Linked DNA regions of Homo sapiens: regions 1, 2, 3, 4 and 6 are each reported to be linked to region 5. Evidence: microRNA targets listed by miRTarBase, many of them from high-throughput screens and not tested one by one. Region 5 holds a microRNA gene; each other region holds the end of a gene's coding sequence.

Region 1 (4,042 bases), not on the chromosome of region 5:
ACTCTTCAGGAATATTTGGGGTTGGTGACAGTGCCCCTTTCCAATTCTGAAATGGGTGAAAACCCTGCTGGCATGTGGCACCTTATATTAGCAATAAGGGCCTAACAGAATGACCTGTCTTCTTCTGTACTTCCAGATGCAGAAGTGGCCCTGAATCTTGGCTTCTTATGTAATTTCATGAGCAATTTGTTAACTTCTGGAAGAGCCACCGTTAGACCTGTGCTACCCTCCTCCCATAGTCACGGTAGTGAGTTTTGAGGGCAGAAATGGTGGTAGTAGTATTTCTTCTTGAGAGATGGTGGTTGGATCTAAGAGTCACATATTCAGAATTTCCTTTAGCTGCCCCTAAAGAGATTAAGAAAGTACTGGCCAGCCGTGGTGGCTCATGCTTGTAATCCCAATACTTTGGGAGGCCAAGGCGAAGGATTGCTTGAGTCCAGGAGTTTGAGATCAGCCTGGGCAACATAGTGAGACCTTTGTCTCTACAAAAAAAATAAATAAATAAACATTAGCTGGGCCTGGTGGCACTTGCCTATAATCCCAGCTACTCAGGAGACTGAGGTGGGAGAACTGCTTGAACCCGGGAGGTTGAGGCTGCAGTGAGCCATGATTGCGCCACTGCACTCCAGTCTGGGCAACAGAGAGAGACCCTGACTCAAAAAAAAAAAAAAAAGAGTATCAGTGTTTCAGGGGTTCCTACCAGTCCACCCTTCCCACTTCCCCTTCCTGCTACTCCTAATCACCTTTGACCTCTAACCCTTCATTGTTTGTGTCAAGTCATAATATTTGATTTCCCCTCATGCTCACTCCATCTTCATCAGCTCTTACTGTTTTACAGTTAACTCTGCTGTTTGCTGCATGCTGCATGAGACCCAGGGTCCTGGTAAGCTTGATTAACTCTAAATAGAACTGGCAGTGGCTTCTAGAACATATCTCCCCCAATCCCGCACCCCCAACACAAGCATCTAATCGTAGAAGAAGCTGCTTCATTGGTCTAGCTGGTTTTCTCTCGTGACTTATAATATGCAGAAATAGTCTGGTGTGGTTTCAGGTGTACATGTGGAATGCCTGCCTGCCTGCCTGATTAAAGTGAGGGGTCGTTTTCAGACTTTTGCTGCTAGAACAGCTGGGTAACACAGGTGGATCCTGTGATCAGTATTTGAGGTTTCAGTGTGGGAAGTTTTTTTCTTAAAGAGCCATAATCGGGCCGGACGCAGTGGCTCACAGACCTGTAATCCCAGCACTTTGGTAGGCCGAGGAGGGCAGATCACCTGAGGTCAGAAGATTGAGACCATCCTGGCTAACACGGTGAAGCTCCATCTCTACTAAAAATACAAAAAATTAGCCGGACATGGTGGCACAGGCCTGTAATCCCAGCTACTCTGGAGGCTGACACAGGAGAATCGCTTGAACCTGGGAGGCGGAGGTTGCAGTGAGCCGAGATTGCACCATTGTACTCTAGCCTGGGCAACAAGAGCGAAACTCCATCTCAAAAACAAAAGGAGCTATAACCATTATTTTCAAAATTAATGAAACCGTGGTGATGAGAGAAACTGGGTTTCACAAGCTCCGTCCTGCAATGTCACAGTCAGCATCAACCCTCTCCCATCCCCCTGCATCAGGTTTGAGAATGTCCAGAGTCAATGGAAACTCACTTCTCTGTTTCCCGCTGGTGGCAGTTTCATATCTGAGGGGTTCAAGTCCTCAAATTTCCTTTGACTGTACCCCTCAAAACCATAATAAGGCTGAGAGCAGTGGCTCACGCCTGTAATCTTAGCACTTTGGGAGGCCGAGGCGGGCGGATCACCTGAGGTCGGGAGTTCGAGACCAGCCTGACCAACATGGAGAAATCCTGTCTCTACTAAAAATACAAAATTAGCCGGGCGTGGTGGTGCATGCCTGTAATCCCAGCTACTCGGGAGGCTGAGGCAGGAGAATTGCTTGAACCTGGGAGGCGGAGGTTGCAGTGAGCCGAGATCGCACCTTTGCACTCCAGCCTGGGCAATAAGAGCGAAACTCCGTCTCAAAAAAACAAACAAACAAACAAACAAAAAAAAAAACAAAAAAAAAAAACCCATAATAAAAGCGGAGGAAAATGAAGAGATCTTAGAAATTATAGAGAATTCCTTACATTTAATCCTACAAGTACTGGCTTCATGAAAACCTCTTATAAGGAGATCAGCAGGTAAGGATTCCTGAGTGCTAGATGTTGTGTTAATAGAAGTTTATAAAGTTTCACATAGTTTATAGGGAGACTGAAAGCAGGGATTAAGGACCTTCTATCTCCTCTACTAGACTCAGGTAGTGGATGGAAAGGAAATACAAACATTTTTAATTTAACATAATTAGGGTTTTTTTTGTTTGTTTGTTTCTTTTTTTGAGACGGAGTCTCACTCTGTCACCGAGGCTGGAGTGCAGTGGCACAACCTCAGCTCCCTGCAACCTCCGCCTCCTGGGTTCAAGCAATTCTCATGCCTCAGCCTCCCAAGTAGCTGGGATTATAGGCATGTGCCACCATTCCTGGCTAATTTTTGTATTTTTAGCAGAGACCGGGTTTCACCACGTTGGCCCAGGCTGGTCTCAAACTCCTGACCTCAGGTGATCTGCCTACCTTGGCCTCCCAAAGTGCTGAGATTACAGGCGTGAGCCACCGCGCCCGATGAAGGGTTATTATTATTTTTTTTAAACTTTACCGTGGAAACTTTCAAACATGAGCAAAATAAGAGGATAATACAGTTCAGCCCCCAGGCAACCATAAACATATGCCTAATCTTGTTTCATCAATTACTACAGACCTGCTGAATTATTATAAAGCAAAACTATATCATTTTATCTGTAAATACTTTAGTATATATTTCCAAGAGATAATGATTCTTTAAAAAAACATAACCACAACCCCACCATTATCACACCTACAAAATGAACAATAATTCATTAACATGAAATGTCTAGTCAGTGTTTGAAACATCCCGGTTGTCTCATAAATGCCCTTTTACATTTGGTTTGTTTGGATCAGGGAATATAAAATATAGAGAAGACTTTTCCCCACTCACCCATGTAGTTTATGATTTAAATGGAGAGCCTGCTGTTAGTCACCAAACTGATTGCCGCAGCTATTGCACTGGGGACTCGGGGCAGCTGGCAAAACATCCTGCTTGGAAGCAAATCCTGAAGAGGAAGTCCATAGAGGTTTCTGCAACATAAGGCCCATGAAACCGGGCCAAAGGAAACAATCTTAAAAGAACAGTGACTTGATTTACTGTCTGGCTTAACAGCAAGTCTTGGAGCCCCTGCTAGTTGACTGGAATTAAACAGCAGATTTCCATTTAGGAAGACAGTCAGTTCCTAGAATGCCTGTCCATTCTTTGCACTGTATGTAGTTCCAGTGCGTAGTGAAGTGTCTGACATGTAATAGGAACTCAGTTCATGTGTTATGTTCTTTGTTCTCCCATTTTTAATGAGGTGAGCAGGAAATATGTATTCTAGTTAATGAGATTTCAGTTAATTCAGGTTTCACTGCACGTGGCTTGACACAGTTGCTTACAGGTTTCCCCAAGTAAATCATTGTTAGTGGCCATTCCTAAAATGAATTCTGGCAAAACTATAATTAAAGCTACACTTTACAAGTGAGAGGCAATTGGTAAACAGCTGGAACAGCCAACCCCAACCCCAAGTAGGTTGGCTCTTCCTGGCAGGATTCTCCCTGGCAGACCACGAAAGCAATTTCAGACCAACGAGTCAGGGGAGGCTTTGGCTCCCCAGGATCTGAAAGCAGCAAAGGCAACCCGCCCCCTCCTCAAAGCCCTCATTCAAGGGGTGGATCACGAAGGCCACCTAGAATGCAGGCAGAGTGAGGCTTACTGTGCCTCCACATTTTGAAATTGCTTGAGGCACTACTTATAGCTCTCTGCATTTGTAAAAGCGATTCCTTTGTGACCCCCTACATCGTTGCAGATACTCTACCTCAATCATTATTGGTCCTTAGGAGTGCACAGTATATGGATAGTATACACACATCAAAATACGTCAGCCTTCCCATGAA
Region 2 (4,042 bases), not on the chromosome of region 5:
GATTTTTTTTTAAATGGACTTTTATGTCAGGAATGTGTTTTGATCCTTTCACATTCAAATTTTGCCTCTCCAGAAACTTGTGCTGGGGTTCAGTCTTGTACAGCTAGAATTTAAATAGCCCTTGCTTTTAACATGGAATTCTGTCTTCTCTAGTGCCACAGAAGGGCTCTTTTAGTCACTAATTAGCTAACAGAAACTGCATCTGCCATTTCCCTTTTCTTTTTAAAGCTATAAAAGGGGCATGTCTGGACACATATTAAGGGGCAAGGGAAAAAACTAATTTAATGGAAGTGACGTAGGGACACTATATTTAATTGACATTTCTATGTTCCCAAAATTTTACAAACATTGCTCTATATCCCCCTTCATTGAGAAACACTTCCGTTTTTGGCTCTTTCTATCTCTGTGTGGCTCAATTGAAGACCAGCCCATTGACTCTGTCTCCTTTTCTCTACAGGCCGTTTTTACTATCTGATCCACCCCACCAAACTGACCTATGATGAAGCGGTGCAAGCTTGTCTCAATGATGGTGCTCAGATTGCAAAAGTGGGCCAGATATTTGCTGCCTGGAAAATTCTCGGATATGACCGCTGTGATGCGGGCTGGTTGGCGGATGGCAGCGTCCGCTACCCCATCTCTAGGCCAAGAAGGCGCTGCAGTCCTACTGAGGCTGCAGTGCGCTTCGTGGGTTTCCCAGATAAAAAGCATAAGCTGTATGGTGTCTACTGCTTCAGAGCATACAACTGAATGTGCCCTTAGAGCGCATCAGTTTTAAAGTCATTAAGAACATGTGAAAGGTGTTTTTTTTTTCCAATATGAACTCATGCAAGTTACCAAAACTGTGATAACCCTTTTTTACTTACTGTAAAGAGTCATTTTCATAAAGATCAATTCATTGATTTGTTTTTTGTAAAGCTATCATTCAATATATATTATAAATTAATATAAATTTAAGGGAAGCTCTATGTAAGGAGACTTAGAGCCAAACTGTTTAAGCTGTATCATCCCAACAAAGTATCCTTTCATGAACGGGGCATGCAATAGCTTAAGAATTGCTAGGATTAAATTAAGGAAAGTAAAGCTACTCAGAGCAGCAGGTTCCACAAGCACAAACTTTACACATTTGTACAATTTTGAAATGCACTACAATAAACAAATTAGAGCAACACATTTGAAATACAGGCTTCTTTACATAAACTGAGAGGTTATACAAAACTCAGTTTCACAAGGGAACAATCTATACCTTTCTAAAAGTTAATATTTCAAGTCTCTAATAGGCAGAATATTTTACTCTTTAAAATCCTGCCTTTCTGACCAAAAAAAAAAAAAAAAATTCATATGGATTCCAATCCATAGTAACAAGCACAGTTAAAACTCCTCAATAATCCCATTTATATGAAGCATGACACATAAATAAGCAGATAATATTTAACCAATGAAAAAGACTTCTACCTTCTTATAATTAAAATTACACATGTCTAAGAGGAATTGTTTTATCTTTTGAGTAGCTTTACCGAGTTGTATTTAAATTCTAAGGGCCATTTGCTAAGCAGCATTTAGCATCTACTCAGGGCAGTTATATAGATAAACTGCTGGACAGAAAAATTGTAAAATTTAGCAGCTTGATTTTCTGTTAGCCTATGAAATGTTATTGTCCTATAAAAATAACTTTAAACTGATTTAATATTTCATATTTACATTATATGAAAATCAATTACATTATAAAAGGAATCCCTAATGCAGAAACAAAGATGCAACTTTCAAAATTCTTATTATTCCTATTTGTATATACACGAGAGAACCCAACCAGTGCCTGTGTTTGGGGGGAAAAGTCAACAGTGTAGTTCTAAACCTTATCCCAAACAGAAAATGTGGTTAATGATGTCACTTTCCTTGCTGGTCATCATTAGGCTTAAATTAAATGCTGAAGCTGTCATCAAAGAGTTTACACTAAAATCTTCAGGGCTTTAAATAAAAGGTTAAGTCCAGCTTCCAAACACAATTTTCCACATTAGCAGCTCCAATCTTCTTAAATAAAGCTCTGTTTTCCTATATTTTTATGACTGCTGAGACCCCACAGGGACCAATATTTGTATTCAAATTACATTTCATGGTTTCCCATTGTTTCACAATGAGTTCTAATAAATGGGATTTACTATAATAATCCAAGTATGACATAGCCGGTATGCTTTCATGAATGTTTTTATGTAGATTTTCCTCCCATGAACATGAGTAAATAAATCTGTTTCCTGAATGGATTGTGGTTGCATTTAAAGCTCTGTAATAATTCTAATAAATTTACTCTATAGAGTTCTGTGTGTGGAAGGTATAGAACAATTGGAAGTCCATGAAACCATAACTATAATCATATATTATTCAGACAAAATATTGTAATAAAAGTAGGTCCTTTCTTTCATCAAAAACATATCTGAAAATTTTCAGATGCTTTAATATTAAAAGATGACAATGTTATGTATGCACATTTTTAAGTTAGGTTGGATATGCAAACTGTACAAAACTATAAATCCAAAGAGTTTGTAAAGTTTAAACTCAAACACTGGTGGTATAAATAGAACTTGCACTTCTAAATTAAGGAAGATACCTAAATGGTCTAGGATGAGATGATATATTATTTAAAGAGGGGACTATCTCCCAAATAACAACTTTAACACCTCAAATATGGGGGCTAGCTCATTGAAAGAAGTCCATACTTGAACTATTATTATGTATGTTCCGATAATTTTGTTGAAAATACAAGTGGGAACAAATTTCTATTGAAGCAAACATCTAATTTTCAGTTATGTCCAGAACTCTACTTTATAATGTTAAATGTAGTAGTATTTCTTAACTTTTAAATACTTACTACTATAGGAATTGGTGCTGATCAAAATCTCTGGAGTGACTGTTAGCTGATTAAAATCTATACCACTTACACATCATTTTTCCATTCGTGTAAAAAACAAAAAATCTTAACACAGTGAATACTGCTGAGCAGAATTTTTTCTTCTCATTTTGCTCAAAGGACCAGAATTTCCATGCCCTTTATACTCATACTTGAATGAGTCTTTTTAATGTTCTCATTTTGCTGTTTTTCCACCAAATGTCTATTTTCCTACTTCATTCCCCAAGATGTCTCACTGAGCAGGTCTGAAAAAGAAAGGTTATTCTAATACAATTCCTAACAGAAAGTTGGTACAACACTGGCTAATTCAGAAATCGCTCCTCAGACTTAGATTCCAAGAGTATCAAAGAGATTAGATGGGAGGCTGGGCCAGGAACCCTTGTTTTAATGTATTTGTCCATAATTAACACTGGTGACCATATAAGGAACAAAGTATATCTGCACATTTCACTGAGACATCTACATTGGAAAACCCAAACAAAAAGAAGCAATTCAAATAAAAAGACAACATAAGAACGAAAATAAGTTGGTCACATTAACACTGGAAGCCATCTTTAAGTGAGTGCTGTCATATTGTGTCACAGTAATTTTTAGCCAAATATGGCGTTTGTAAATTTAAACTTTCTCTCATGGAAAGGGGGCTGGTACCTGTCAAAGTGTTATTTTATGCAACAATATAGTCACTTTTTATTTTGGCAATTAGAAGTAGACTCAAAGGAGATTACAATTTGGTTGCTGGCAGCCATTCTGGGTTTCTTGATTTTAGTACTCCAAAGAATATGGTGGTCTCATGGAGTAGCTGACCACTAAGGAGGGGAGGATTAAAAGGGAATCACTTATCAGTTTTTAGCATAGGATGCATTAAGAAATATCAACGGATAACTGACATCGTTTTGTTAAGAAGTTAACTGTATCGTAGCTCACTACTGCCAGAGCGGCAATGGATGTACAACGAAAGAGATGAAAAATACAAAAGTTATTAAGCCACCTGATTAAAAGAAAACCAATATTTAAAGGCATTTAATAGATATCAAGTATAACTTTGAGGAGAAGAATCAATCTGTATTACCAAAAAAAAAATGTTTTGATTTTCTGTAAGATACAATGAACTGGTACATTAAAAGTCAATTTTGTGTTACT
Region 3 (3,000 bases), not on the chromosome of region 5:
ATCCTTCCAGTGCCCTGGACAAATCTTGGTGAAGTGAGATTATTGTGTTGAGATTCAGGGTTGTTTTTAATGTTTCTTTCTTTGCCAACTCTTGGGGGTTTGAATGTTTTAAATTTGAACTCCAACTTTATTATACTGAAAATCAGACCGCCCATTTTTTCTTTCTACCCCTTTTCAGAAAGGCCTAAAGAATGTATTTGACGAAGCAATATTGGCTGCCCTGGAGCCTCCAGAACCGAAGAAGAGCCGCAGGTGTGTGCTGCTATGAACATCTCTCCAGAGCCCTTTCTGCACAGCTGGTGTCGGCATCATACTAAAAGCAATGTTTAAATCAAACTAAAGATTAAAAATTAAAATTCGTTTTTGCAATAATGACAAATGCCCTGCACCTACCCACATGCACTCGTGTGAGACAAGGCCCATAGGTATGGCCCCCCCCTTCCCCCTCCCAGTACTAGTTAATTTTGAGTAATTGTATTGTCAGAAAAGTGATTAGTACTATTTTTTTTTGTTGTTTCAAAAAAAAAATTTTTGTGTGTGTGTGTTTTTTTTTTTTTTTTTTTTGTTGTTTAAAAGCAAGGCATGCTTGTGGATGACTCTGTAACAGACTAATTGGAATTGTTGAAGCTGCTCCCTGGTTCCACTCTGGAGAGTAATCTGGGACATCTTAGTGTTTTGTTTTGTTTTTTTCCCTCCTCTTTTTTTTGGGGGGGAGTGTGTGTGGGGTTTGTTTTTTAGTCTTGTTTTTTTAATTCATTAACCAGTGGTTAGCCCTTAAGGGGAGGAGGACGGATTGATTCCACATTCCACTTCCTAGATCTAGTTTAGAAAACATGTTCCCCATCTGGTGCTCTTAGGAAGGAGTATAGTAAATGCCTCATTTAATAACATACTCCTTTTTGAAAGTTGCCTTTTCTCTCCACCCTTGAGTAGATCCAGTATTTGATGAAACTCATGAAAGTGGGTGGAGCCCATCTTGCCCCTCCTCTTTTCTAGGACGCACTATATGTGACTGTGACTTTCAAGGACATTTGTTTGCCATTTGCTGATTTTTTTGGGAAGTTAATTTCTAACTTCTTTCACTGATAAATGAAGAAAAGTATTGCACCTTTGAAATGCACCAAATGAATTGAGTTTGTAATTAAAAAAATTTTTTTCCCTTTCAGTCATTGTCTTATATGCTTAGCATAGATTTGCAGCTCAGTAGTATATGGTGTTCCTAGAATGCAGCTGAAGACCTGTTATGTAGAGGAAATACGAGGGGTGGTGCTAGAAGACAGACATCTGTGGAATGATTCACATCCTCTCAAGTTAGGAGGATGGAGGCCTGCTTCATTAAGAAGCTGGGGGTAGGGTGGGGGTGGGGAGAACACTTAACAACATGGGGACCAGTCAGGGGAATCCCCTTATTTCTGTTTTGCATATGAGGAACCCTAGAGCAGCCAGGTGAGGCTCTCTAGTTTAATAAAAATCATGGAAAGACTCTTAATGCAGACTCTTCTTAAGTGTTAATAGGGATTTTTTCAGCTTATTTTGGTTGCAGTTTCCAATTTTTAAAAATGTTGAGGTAATCTTTCCCACCTTCCCAAACCTAATTCTTGTAGATGCATTAGTGTTGAACCAATGCTTTCTCATGTCTCAATTCTTTGTATATGCATTCTTTTCAGATGTATTAAACAAACAAAAACCCTTCACAAGCCAGCCTGAGGGTTGTTATTTTCCCTCCGTCTCTTACTTTTCAGATATTGAGGAGTGGGAATTTGACTCTTGATAACATCAATTTCTAACAAACTTTGGGATAAAATTTTAAAGCTTTATTATTTTTATTTTCTGGCATTTTAGTTTGAGATAATATTTAGCCCTCTATATGTTCAGGTTTGTGCTTTCTCCTCTAAGTTTGACCCTTCCCTTAAATACCAAGTAGGTCCATAATAATTCTTAGTGAAGCAGTGTTCAGGAAGCTCACTGCTCATGGTGGAAGGAAATGTCAGTGTACCTTTAATCCATAGATCATTGAAAAGCAGCTCATTTTCCCCCAAGTTTTCTGCATCAGTGGTTCTCCAACTGGAGTGCAGCTTGAACAATGTGATTTTTAAGTTTTCCAGGCATTTCTAAAATGTAGCCAAGTTTGGGAATCACCACACCTAGTTGGTTATCTCAAACTACTACTATCAGAATACAGGTTCTGTGCTGCGAATCTGAATATGGGATACATTTTCTTTAGGTAGCAAGAAAGGTTTATTTACCTTTAGGACATTATACTGATCTGCATGAGAATCTTAGAAACTAAGAACCCTTAAAATCAGTTAAGGTTGGTACACTGTGGCCTCATTTTGATAGTTCTCTGCATGGAGTCATGTTTGGCATGATTTGCATACTGTGCTAGAATTAAGCTGGGTTGGTTGAGAAGGGGTTAGGAAGAGGCAGATGTAAGCTTTAACAGTTCTAACCAAGAAATGCATCTTATTTATTCCTTGTTGACTATACTAGGGAGAGATACCTGGATCATGTGATACCCTGGAAAGCAGGGACATATGTATCCTTAGTGTAGTCAGGGGCGTATAGGTCCTTGACTATTGCTATATCTTTGTCCTAAAGCAATGCTTGACATGATATGGCTCTAGAAGTAGTCATTGGATGGGTATATTATTTTATAAATGAGTAAGTGAAATAAAGCAGGTCATACAGTTGTGTCAACGAATTATCCGTGTATCAGAAGAACAAGGATGATGGGGATTGATTGAAGCTAATGTTTTCTTAAATATTTTCAGATTGATTTCTGCATGTCAGAAGAACTTGGGTAGCAAGTGGATGCAGCTTAGGTTTTCCATTTAAATATTGTTTTCTATTTGACGTAACAAACTTGCTTATAGTCGTGGCTTAGAAGGTGAGTGATATTCTCCAGGGAGTATGATTTAGAGGCTGGAAAGGGTTATTGAAAATAGTCCTTACAGGCTTAGTTTGTGTCAGAATTTATAGTATTTAATACGATGTTAATAT
Region 4 (4,042 bases), not on the chromosome of region 5:
ATTGTAAGAAACATTTTTTTTTCTTTGTTACAAAAGGACTAAGTGGTTCTGAAAGCAAAGGTAGAGTTCATCTGTGGCTGGGCTGCAGCCCCTGGGCTTGAGGTGGGCGTGATCACGGGGAATGCAGGCTTGTCCGAGGAACGCCTGGGCCAGTCACATCTGAACGCTATGCCTACAATACTTAAATGTATTTACATGTGTTTCTTTTAAAAAAAGGATTACACATTTTATTTTTTAAAAAAATCTAAAAAAGGTGAAAAAAATGAACTTGTATTTTATTTTACATGTCTGCAGGATACACAAGGGTAACTTGTCAGAAGAGAACATCCTCCTATCAGTTCAAAACAACACATGAAACCAGGATACAAGACAGCCTCGACTCTGCTACCACCGTGCGCTCTCTGGCTGGTGCACACACAGCCTTGGAGTGCTGATTGGGCAACACCAACTGGTCCCTCTCATTGACAAGATTAACATAAAATAAGGCACATACATCGCAAGAATCAAAACTTTGTGGCTCAAGAGGAAGAGCCAATGTGTGAGGAGTTGGGAGGGGTTAACTTTTTCAGAAAAATAAAACAAAAATGGTTAGAAAACGTTTAACACAGACATTAAGCAGGAGTAGAATGTGTGAGCCTGCATGTTTTAGAAAAGGCAGGATGGTGACACTAGTGAGGCGGTCCTCTCGCTCTAAAATGCATAGGTTAGAGAAATGGAGAGAGGCTTGGAGGCTGGGGGTGAGTCTCAAGATATGAGATGCCTAGCCTACAGAGATCCCAAAAGGATGTCCCAAAAAGATGCTTCTAAGTGACCTCAAAAGACCTTCCTTCCACTGGACTGCCACAACAGATCACTGAAATTCTGGAGGAGTATACTTTCTTCTTCCTCCCTCCTCTCCTCTGTCCTTCTGAAATTTCCATATTGAGAGAAGCCAAACATTGAGCTGAAACTTGCATCTCCTGCAAATCTAAAAGCAGTAGAAAGGAAAGCAAATATAAAAAAAAAAAGAAATAAAAGAAGAATAGGGGAAACCCAGAAAATAACCTGAAACCATAGGAAAGAGCAGAAGCACAAGACAACAACAGTGGTGGGCCGGATCACTGTGCATCCCTCCAGGAAGGACAAAGCTGATACAGGAAATAATGGTAACTGAGAAATGGAGGTTGCATCCGAGAATACTACTGGAAGAGCCCTCTGATGGAGGAGGTCAGCATGGTCCCTTCCACCCAAGCTCCTTTCTTAGGAGGAGTGGAGAACACTCAGGCCCCATGCTTTGAAAACAAGAGTTGGAAAGGGATTGAACCAAACCATTAGAGCACACAAGATAAGACTGGAGATTTGGAGATTTGTGGAAAAGTGAGACTGGATCTCTGATTCTGTGACAACATTATGCCTTGTTTCAGAAACACAGAGAAAGTCTTGCTTTTTCAACTGAAAAGTGGTAGAGCCTCTACTTTCCTATGCTCAGATCAGTAGTTCTCTTTTGTTATGGGGCTGTTCCAAAGGAGACACATCCGTTAATTTCAAAGAAGACTTACATGGGGGAGAACAGCAGGCATGGAAGGGGAATTGCAGTGTCCCTCTGCTTGTCTCAGGAACATCTAGTTGAAAGCAAACCTAATAGTCTTAGCCAAAGTCCCCAGTGGCAAATCAACCTCCATGCGGAGATTCTTGGTCCAAATGAAAGAACATAAACATGAGAAAAGTGGGCTGGTCTTAACACTCTTTCTATTATCTAACACTTTATTTTACTTGATTTTGTCTTTCTACTGTAATTTAAATGGCAAGATTAAAGGGGAAAAGCCACATAATTGAATTATCAATCACTTGCAGTAAATCCAATTCCAGGGGTCAATGGGACAGAATACAGCAGGTAGCCTGAGGTGTTAATATTTTAACAGTTTATATAATTTTTTAAAGCAATATGCTGGAAAATCCATGTACTCTTTGTGCACACACAGTATGACTTTTATGTGTATCAAATGCACGTGGGGAGTAGCTGCACTTCAAAAATCTTTAAATGTTTTAATCCAAAACAAAAGTACAGATCCAGTCCACATTAAGGACTAACTGCATGTAACATTTAACTTCGTGAATGGATGCAGCATTCAATAGACAGGGTGTGAAAAAAGGCATCCACACAGCTACTAAACATCTTCCCTAGTGCTCTCAAATACTAAAAATGGCTGAAGCAATTTATTCCCACTATGTGGGCTTTCTCTTTTACAACTAAGTTTTATAAATCCCTCAAAATAAGGTATTTAGAATGGAAATCCTCCCTCACTATAGTGGAATTAATAAATGTTACTGATACAGCCGCTTGTGGGGTTGTTTAAATACCTATATACTTAGAGCTATATATAATCAATTCTCAGTTAAAATGGGAAAGAGATGGAACTAATCAACAAACACAGCAACTCATAAATATTCCCCCAACTAATTCTACCCAATTGCTTCAATCTACCATCTATCTAACTTCTTACCAGAACAGATAAAAGTAGCAATGTGGCTGAGTGTCACCAACTGTCCGTCCCTTCTCTCTAACTGCAGTGCGAAACAGCACTGAATGTTCATGAAGGTAGTGGGAGGAGAGGCAAATGTGATAACTGAGAATCGACCATACAGACATAGCCTCCCCCAAAGCACACTTACAGACATGAAGAGCTGAAAACCAAAACTGTGAGCGCCCATTTCATTTATAAGAGCCCCACGTTCCCATTTCTGTTTAACTGTGGAATGCCCTGAACTGAATTGGAGATGGGGGGAACATCAATATTCTGTCATCTATGCTACAGTGCACCCACAAAAGTTTCTTAAACTAGCTATCCATATTCTGATTCTTGTGCCCAATGTGGGAATTAAAATAAAAAACAGAAACCAAAACACAAAACAAAACACTGAGCACATGTAAAGGAGAATTTTAAAAGCTGGAAGTGTAACCCCTTGGTCACAAGCACACCAACTCCTATTTCCTTTGAGCAACAGCAAAACATGTCAAATCCTTTAATTTGACTGCTCTTCTAAAAGAAAGAAGAATATGCACATCACAAATTTACATCGGTTTACTAAAAAGGGGGCGGGGCTTACAGTTTTTTTTTTTTTTTTTAAAAAGAGGGTGGTTTGAGTGTAACAATACTGATTCAAAACTGAAATGGAAGACAGTTTCTCCCTAGAATACTTTAGGGTTTTTCAGAGTCCTTTTCCATAAAAGGAATATAATTGAAACACATCTCAGTTAGGTGAGATGAGATTGCTAAAATACATACAGAACTAAAAAAACAGCCAAAACAAAGTCAGTTTAATCTCTTCAACTCCTATTGATTTCCGTTGGTTGCAGTCTTTTTTTCCTAAAGCCTATTGCATAACTGCAAGGAATTTGCTTTCTTCCGCTAGGGAGGTCAGCAAAGAACTCATGTCCCCGATAGCCATGTTGGTGGTGCTCATGGACAGCGCTGGGAATGGGAGGGACGCCCGAGGCGTGGTGAGGCGGGAGGAGCTATGGGAAAGGTTCTGAATGATACTTGGGCTCAGGGCCCCCGACATCAGGCTGGAGTGGTCCCCATCGTCTATGATGGCATCGAAGTCAATCTGTACCCCTTCCAGGTCATGGCTGTCGAGGCTGTCCACTGTGCTTGTCACCTGATTAGCACCTGGGGAAAGTAACTCAGAGTTTTTGGCGCTGGTCCCCTGTAGCAGGCAGCTGGCGTCTGAAATAGAGAATGAACCAGCTTTCGTGTCTTGCTGACTGAAGCCCACGGTTTGGTCATAGAACTGACCAGAGTAATTCTGCAGATTAGAGCACAGCGGATGGGGCTGCCCTTTCATCTCCATCTTGATACCATTCACCCTGCAGGTCTGACTTGTGTCACTGAGCTGTCCTGACTGCAGAGCAAGGCTGTCCCTCGGCATAGCCTGGCGCCTGCTGCCCCCAAAGCTGGCACATGGCTGGTAGCCCCTGACAACTGCCAAGCTTGACGGCTGGCTGCCCATGCCGTGAGCCCCTGGCAGGCAGCTCTCTGGCCCTTGGTAGATGTTGATGTGT
Region 5 (4,042 bases):
GCCTGCTTCCTTGCTCCCCAGGAGGAGCTAGAGAAGGAGCAGAGGTTAGCCAGAGGAAGAGCTGGCAGGCAGCAGCTTCAAGACAGCTATGTCACTGGCAGGAGGAGGCAGAAGGTAAGATGCCAGGACTACAGGGCCAGGAGAATGCACACCAAGGAGGAGAGGACAAGCCAAGACAGAAGCTTCAACGTAACCCTGCACAGACCACTCTAGAACCAAGCCATGTTCTGTGGTGCCCTGCTTTCTCACCACCACCATCATTGTGGGCTTTTACCTTGTTGCCATTTCTACAGTGCCTTATTGAGTGCTTTGATGTCTGGGATATCTTATTTATTCCATACAGAGCTCCCAAGCTGGAGTCCATCTTGCAGAAGTTGGCATCGCTGGTTAAACTCATTCTGTGTTTCCTGATCAGCAGTTTCAACAATTTCAATGATGAAGTGCAAACACTTGCAGCTGAGGAAGGGAAACATGTAAAGGACAGGCTGGAGTTGAGAGTGAACTTCTTGGCCTCCAAAGCAGTCAGGATTGTCTCTAGGACTTTCCCACACCCCTGACACTGTCCATGGTGCCCACTAGGGACACAGTGCACCTTTCCTTCCTTGTCATTAAGCCTCGCAACAAGCAGGCAGAGTAGATACAACCTTCTCCTGCTGTGCAGATGTAGAAACTCAGGTTAAAAGATGTTATGTAACTTCCTAGAAGCAAAAGAGCCAGGAAAGCATTGGTAGGATTTGAACCCAGATAAGTGTGACTCCAAGGCCACATGCATTCCACTTAGTTTTACTTGTCTTCATCAGGAAGAGAAAATAAAAGGGCTGCAATGCCTAGCCCCCAGGGAGAAGGACAATTTTCTAGCATCATTCAAACTATCCTTTCTGCCTACCTCTTTTCCCACCTGCTCCCATACATCGTGAAGACTGGCAGGCCACCTTTCTGGGGAGTTTCTTCTTCTTAGTCAGCTCTCTCCCACAGCTCACACCTCCCTAGAAACAGAGAGAAACCAGTGGGTACTCCTATTAGTTCAGTGGTTCTCAAACTTGAGCTGCATCGGAATCACCCAAAGGGCAGGTTATAGCACTAATTTCTGGGTCCTACTTCCAGATGTTTCGGGCTGGTAAGTGTTGCCATTCTTTTACAAGGCCAACATACAAATCCAGAGTTCTCCTTTAAAATCTGCAAGAATCAAAGATTTTTCCACCTCCTTTGAGAAACAGTTTAGTCAATGCTATCCCCTTGTTAAACCAAACAACCTCAATGTCTATGGCTGGGAGAATAAATAAATTATAGTATATTCACACAGTAGAAAACCATAAAGCAATGAAAATTAATAAACTGCTGCTACCACATCAATATGGATGAATCTTGCAAATATCATTTTAAATGAAATATCAAGTCACAAAACAATACCTATGATATGATGCCATTATATACTAAAATATGCATATATATTGTTTAGAAATATATGCATAAATGGTAAAAACTATAAAGAAAAATATCAAAATCATAAGAAAAAATAAATTCAGTGTGATTGTTACCTCCGGGGGGAAACATAAAGAAATAAATTGGAAAAAGCATTCAGTACAAAGAAAGCAATAGTATAAAACAGTAAAAAATAGTTCTTTTTAAAAGGTAGATCGTTGGGCCAGGCGTGATGGCTCACGGCTAAAATCCCAGCACTTTGAGAGGCTGAGATGGGTGGATCACCTGAGGTCAGGGGTTTGAGACCAGCCTGGCCAACATGGCAAAACCCCATTTCTACTCAAAATACAAAAATAGCGGGACATGGTGGCAGGTGTCTGTAATTCCAGCTACTCAGGAGTTTGAGGCAGGAGAATCACTTGAAACAGGAGGCAGAGGTTGCAGTGAGCTGAGATAGCGCCACTGCACTCCAGCCTGGGTGACAGAGTGAGACTCCATCTCAAAAAAGTAACAACAAAAAAAAGTAGATCGTTGTTCATGGGTATTGGTTTTACCATTATGTACCATCACTTATATATTATAAATATTCTTTTATAAATATATCATACTTGAATTAAAAACATAATTTAAAGAAATTAAAATGTTAAGCATTCAAAGAATATATGCCAAAATGTTACATTTCTTTCGGAAAATGGGAAGAGGAAGCATTATGGCATACTGTCATTTTTCATATTCTATAATTCTATAGCATATTTGATCTTCATGATGTTTCTATTTGAAAAAAGATTAAAGATTAAAGAAAAAATAAATTGAAGTCATGCAACATGAAATACAAATTATGTATGATTTGTATGTACAAATTGTATGAGATGTATGTACAAATCATGTAAGAGGACATTCTGGACAAGGCAAGCTCCTGGCATTTGACAGATGCTAATGCTGCTTCTTTTTGCATTACAGGCTTAGACAAATGATGCTTGAGACACACCAAGATACCTGCACACTAGAGGCTGCAGTCACCTCAGAAGAAAGATGCCCCCTGCTCTGGCTGGTCAAACGGAACCAAGTCCGTCTTCCTGAGAGGTTTGGTCCCCTTCAACCAGCTACAGCAGGGCTGGCAATGCCCAGTCCTTGGAGAAACAGAAGAGATTCAACTGCAACTGAAATTACCTACTAAAACTTTCCTTGAGAAAACAATTCTGGTTTTTTCACCATATTCTTATGCTCCCAGGAAGGAAGAGAAGAGGAGTCCTGGAGTCAAAAGTGAGCAAGATTTTAATGCTCAACACACACTGTTCTGTGCCTTTGCACTCACAGCTGCAGCCACTTACATGCTTTTGACAGACACACAGTCAAGAAAGAGTTTGAGGATGGAGTTTGTGCCAACCCTAAGCCAGCCAGGGGAAGAGCATGAGACATAGAAGACAGGGCTCCTGCTCACTAGGGGCTAACAGTCTAAGGAAAGAAATTAGACATGTATATATGGTGTGATCCAATTGAATTGCAAGTTATAGCATGGCTAGTTCCAAGGCATAATTCTTACCTATCCCACCAAATATGCCTAGCACATTATGTATCATCAAGTCTCTATTGATCTATTCAGCCCAAGATATCTATTCACTAAGCAATCATTTCTCAGTTCCCTGATCTGTAGAATAGGGATAATAGTACCTGTCACACCAGGCACAGTGGCTTATGCCTAAAATCTCAGCATTTGGGGTGGCTAAGACAGGGGATTGCTTGAGGCCAGGAGTTCCAGATCAGCCTGGTCAACATAGCAAGATGCTGTTTCTACCAAAAAAAAATTTTTTTTGTTTTAATTAGCTGAATGCGGTAGTGCACACCTATAGTCCTAGCTACTTGGGAGGCTGAGGCAGGAAGATCACTTAAGTCCAGGAGATGGAGGCTGTAATGAGCTAAGTTCTCATAATCGCTACCTTTTACTAAGGGAGAATTCTGACCTGTCCTTCCAGTTTATCTTTTAAGATTTGTATCTTTTATGGTGTGTGTCTGGAACTTAGACAGTAATAAGTAAATATTTGGGTTTAAAATTCTATAGACATGTGTGTTCACATGCTGTATTCTGACACAAATGGGGTAGCATAAGTGCCTAGAGCCCACCACAGTGACCTCAGAGGAGAACACAGAGCTTACTAGCACAAATCTTTGCATTCAGGAAGACCTGGGGTTGAATGCTGCCCCTCTAATTTATTAGCTGTGATATATCCTCTCCGCAGCTCAATTAACATTGCACAAGCCTTAGTTTACTCATCTGTAAAATGGGGACAATGATACCAACCTCAGTTACCGTAAGGCTTAAAACAGACAGTGTTAATAAAGAGCCAAATATAAGCCCTTAAGAAATAGTAGCTGTTGTTTTACTGCTGTAAATGGCAACAGCACAAGGACAATGCTGTGTCCACAGGCACTTGTATGTAGAAGGAAAGAGCCAAATTAAAAAAAAAATAGGAGAAGAACTCAAAAAATACATAAAGGCTCATTGCTCACTGTAGGGTTTTGTTTTTTGTTGTTGTTGTTTTGTTTTTGTTTTTGTTTATTTTTTGAGACAGGGTCTCACTCTGTTGCCCAGATAGGAGTGCAGTGGCACGATTTCAGCTCA
Region 6 (4,042 bases), not on the chromosome of region 5:
AATTAAAACATTTTTTTTAAAATTAGGTGGTTACACTATCCTTCTTAACATGATTGATAATCTCAGGCCATTCTAGCTATAAGCTAAGAATCTTTCCTTTACTGTACCCAGAAGAGTATCTTGGACCCACTCAATATCTTTTAAACAAATAAATCCCATAAAATAATATCCCCCAAATTGTTTAATTCAGTAAAATATGAAGTCAAAGGCCACCTAAAACACTATATTTTATTTTTAACTTTTCTATTGTTTTGGTCACATGTAAAGAATAAAAATGAAAACACACTACTCTGTCACATCAAGAAATAACTTTATCCAAAAGGAATTCAAATGTAAGATATATTTAGCATCAATTCATATATTAGTAACTTACACATGTATTGTCAAGTATGACATCCATAAAAGCACAAAACAGTTTCTAACACGTTCCATCAAACTTCTGGCGTACTTTATGTGTCATTTCCATGACTACTAACCACATATATAGAGACTAGGGGATACTTAGTGAAGACAGCTTTCCAGGAAGTTTACAAAATTGAAGAAAAAAAAAGTATGTCCAAATATGGCATAAGTAGCAATGGGGCCCTGAATTTACTTTGGAAAGATTGCCTAAGGCACCACTATAATGAACAGTTGTAAATCTCTGATCAGACTTCAAATTTTTCTGGTCTTAAAATTGCAATTCTAACCACAAGGTTAGGTGACTAGATTAGCTGGTATATTATTTCCTCTGTGCCAGCATCTGTAAGAAATATTACATCTATCCTGGGCACCGTCACTCCGATATATATTTGTAATAGATCTGATTATATGAGGTGTGAAAGTCAATATGGGTAATTTTTCTTTAAATGCATTTTAAGAACAAACAGCACTTAAATGAATGGTGGCACAACAGGGAAAAGGACTATTTTAATGTAAAACAATATTAAATCAGCGTATGATGAGGTTGAGTGCTGAAACTGTGAAAACTGATAATTTAGAAATTGTAAATGCTTTTATTCAAAACTGTAAAAAGGCACCAATTACCCTAGTTTGCTGGAATCACAGTTCTTATGAATAATAGCATCTACTGATGAACATGATCATGAATTAAATGTTTTAAATTTTAAAACAATTTTAAAATAGAATAATTCTGATAAAATCAGAATATAAAATAATGAAGACCAAATCCAATTGACAGTGATTACCTGTTATTTGGCTGAAGAAAACCAGGAATGCTCATAACCAGCAGTTCCCAAGCACCTTGTGCAGGTGACTCAGGGGCTGCTGTGGAGCTGGTTAAGGAGAAGGAGGATATGCCCAGTGACTGGGACCCTGCCACAGCATCAAACAGATAAGCTCACTTCTGTCTGTTTTACTGTACATTGAGAATATGTGTAAGTCATTTTTTAAAAGGCTTCTTGTGATTAAAAGAGAAAATTCTGAAAACCACAGCAACATATCTATGCTGTTTCCAAGCATACAAAGAGAATTAGAACATCTGAGACAACTATGGCTCCAAACAATCAGAAGAAGGGTTAGTTTTCTTTTCTCCTATTGATAATGTCAAAATGATGTGTCATCTATTGAGCCATACTATGGAGTAGCAGGCTACTAGTTAGATGCCTTCCCCAGTTAACAGCACATATCCAAAGGACAGCTAGCCAAGTGGGAAGGTGGTAGGTAAATGCTCATCTGGGCTAGGCAACCACCACAGCAAGCAGGTCCCCTCTCAGCCTGGCCTTGGCAATGAGCTGCTTCTGAGAAGCCACAGCTATCTGTGGTTGAGAGCTCACTCCCTTGAGGCATTGCAGAGAACAAGAGACATGGGCTGTGGGGCAGCTTTTCAATAAAACTGAGAGGCACATCAACATGGCACTGTATGTGTCCACTTAAGGATATATGATAAACATGCAATTTCAAAAGGTAAATTATTAAAGATAATTGGCCAATATATAGATATGCATAGTTTTTAGCACATAGGCCCTCAATAAAATATTAGGATCTATTCTGAAAATGTAATGTTCACTAAGTAATACGCTGTAAAAGGTAAAAGTCAGGAAAAGAAATTCAACTCTTAAAAAAAAAAAGCACATAAAATCCACCCTATCTTAATGCAGCAGTTGGAAAAGTTTTCTTTTTTCTTTCCTTTTTCTAAGTTGCAGTAGGTTTTATACCTAATAAGGTATGCTGTAGACATAGGAAATATCACATTATTAAATTGTAAAATGCAATTTTGATTAACAGATAACTGGTATCGTGAGTTTAAAAATCAGATGAAAATGGTTCTTAAAAAAAGGAGAAAATGACTAAGTGGATCTGTACAAATCAATATATGGGACCTTAGCAAGGAAAGTATAAAATTTTTTTTTAGTAAGCAGTTTTTCATTAGTTAGAAGGAAACGGAATTCTGAATTTCACCTTATATGTTTGGTCCTCTTATCTTTCCTGGACAAAACAGTCCTAACCGTTTTAACAAATCTCAATTAAAGTAATCTAATAATGTAGAATTCAGGACAACCTACCATCTGTGCATCTACAATATCCTGAAAGTCTTGCTCAGTTAATGAAAAAAAAAGCCAAATCTGACCATGTTTACAGTTTTCCACAATAAAATAAAATATCTAGAAAGGCAAATAAAAATGGCTTACTTACATGAGGTTATTTTTACTTGTTGATTGTACATTTAAAAAACTGAGTATGTGCCTTTTCCTGCTCATTCAGTACTTTTCATAAAGTCCCAAGTTGAGTGCATGCTGTTTTGTAAACCACAGTGTCTAAACTGTAGCAAAAATCAGATGCATAGACAGGTTATTTTTACCTTGCAGAAAAGCACTGTATACAGAGTTACAGGAACAAATTTGATATCATATAATTTAAGAAGCTCTCATAATCAGGTATGGACATTGGCTTATACAACATACACTGTGAATCAGGCACAGCAACCTGCAAACCACATCATCCCAACAGTTTTCCATTCTTCCTATTGACAAACACTTAAACACAGCATTTTCATCATATGAAAGTAAACAAAAACAACAACAGAATAAGCTTTCCCCACACTAATTTCTAATCCAAAGAGCTTTACTGCAATTAATGTAAATTGCTATCAATCACTGAATTGACTGGGCAAAGATGGACTTGGCACTGTCCCCCCAAAATAACCTAGAAAGAATGCTTTAAACAGATATAATCCATAGAGAAAGAGATTTACATCATAAATGCTGGGGGTAAAAAGTACGTAGAATGACAGATACACGATTTGGGGTGAGAGATGGCATTGCTCCACATAACACAAAAGAATTCTGTTGAAGTGGTCACTGCTTCTGTTGTTTCGTGGCTGGGTTCTTGGGAGGAAGGAGTTTGTATGTATTGAAGTAGCCCACCACCTGCTGGGGAATCTCTGCCAAGACACACTGAGCAAGTGCTTCTTTTGGAGCCTTGTGAAAAACAAAATAAAAGTGACTTTATTAGCAACTGAATTTTCCTGGCTTTTTCATAAAAGACTAGGGATACTTCAGCAGCCACTAAAATGAAGCAATTCTAATTCATAGGCCTGTACCTTTTCTTAGGAACCGCCCATGAAATATGGAATGAGTTAACTAGCCAATGTTACTTATGATTGCTATTACTATCCCTGCTAACATTTGTCAAGTCCTTTTTCGGTGCCAGCATTCTAACATTTGATGATTTTGTTGTTGTTGTTTTATAACTTTTAAATGTGGTTCTTTCACTTACTTGGTATTAATTTTTTTTTACTTTTTTTTACAACATTTATAGATTCATAGGAAGTTGCAAAAACAGTAAAGAAAGGTACCATGCACCCTTCACCCAGATTCCTCCAAAGGTAACATCTTGCATAACTATAGTACAGTATCAAAACCAAAACCAGGCAGCTGACACTGATACAGTTCACAGAACTTACTCTGATTTCTAGTTTTACATTACTCATTTGTGTGTGTGTGTGTGTGTATGTGTGTGTGTTTGTTTCTGTATAATTCGATGCAATTTTGTCATCTGGATAGATCTGTTTAACCACCACCACAATTGAGATACAGAACTG

What was found. Region 5 holds the annotated microRNA hsa-miR-133b (UUUGGUCCCCUUCAACCAGCUA, at 2,507-2,528, shown strand). A microRNA usually pairs through its seed, bases 2 to 8, with sites in the 3' UTR of a target mRNA and lowers its output. Matches are read on the target gene's strand: a 7mer-m8 pairs with bases 2 to 8, a 7mer-A1 pairs with bases 2 to 7 and ends in A, and an 8mer does both.
Region 1: miRTarBase lists SEPTIN6 as a target of hsa-miR-133b. The part of its 3' UTR that is shown has no 7-base or 8-base seed match.
Region 2: the mRNA of HAPLN1 is a reported target of hsa-miR-133b. Seed matches in the 3' UTR shown: 7mer-A1 at 1,313-1,319 and 7mer-m8 at 2,081-2,087.
Region 3: miRTarBase lists CDC42 as a target of hsa-miR-133b. The part of its 3' UTR that is shown has no 7-base or 8-base seed match.
Region 4: miRTarBase lists GLI3 as a target of hsa-miR-133b. Seed matches in the 3' UTR shown: 7mer-m8 at 1,672-1,678.
Region 6: the mRNA of CPNE3 is a reported target of hsa-miR-133b. Seed matches in the 3' UTR shown: 8mer at 2,409-2,416 and 7mer-A1 at 251-257.

The regions. Positions count from the first base shown.
Region 1 is chrX:119,622,176-119,626,217 of GRCh38, reverse strand. It overlaps SEPTIN6 (septin 6), which reads left to right. Exons shown (of 11, transcript NM_145799.4): 10 at 839-883. The coding sequence ends at 842. Among named protein-coding and RNA genes, the nearest start is that of NKRF, 18 kb to the right of the region's middle.
Region 2 is chr5:83,638,201-83,642,242 of GRCh38, reverse strand. HAPLN1 (hyaluronan and proteoglycan link protein 1) reads left to right here. Exons shown (of 5, transcript NM_001884.4): 5 at 458-4,042. The coding sequence ends at 747. Among named protein-coding and RNA genes, the nearest start is that of VCAN-AS1, 78 kb to the right of the region's middle.
Region 3 is chr1:22,091,250-22,094,249 of GRCh38, forward strand. It overlaps CDC42 (cell division cycle 42), which reads left to right. Exons shown (of 6, transcript NM_001791.4): 6 at 179-3,000. The coding sequence ends at 268. Among named protein-coding and RNA genes, the nearest start is that of CDC42, 40 kb to the left of the region's middle.
Region 4 is chr7:41,960,976-41,965,017 of GRCh38, forward strand. It overlaps GLI3 (GLI family zinc finger 3), which reads right to left. Exons shown (of 15, transcript NM_000168.6): 15 at 1-4,042. The coding sequence ends at 3,355. Among named protein-coding and RNA genes, the nearest start is that of INHBA, 260 kb to the left of the region's middle.
Region 5 is chr6:52,146,482-52,150,523 of GRCh38, forward strand. It overlaps MIR133B (microRNA 133b), which reads left to right and starts at 2,442; the gene lies at 2,442-2,560. LINCMD1 (long intergenic non-protein coding RNA, muscle differentiation 1) reads right to left here. Exons shown (of 3, transcript NR_131248.1): 2 at 887-986; 3 at 333-456.
Region 6 is chr8:86,557,665-86,561,706 of GRCh38, reverse strand. It overlaps CPNE3 (copine 3), which reads right to left. Exons shown (of 17, transcript NM_003909.5): 17 at 209-3,419. The coding sequence ends at 3,297. Among named protein-coding and RNA genes, the nearest start is that of CPNE3, 45 kb to the right of the region's middle.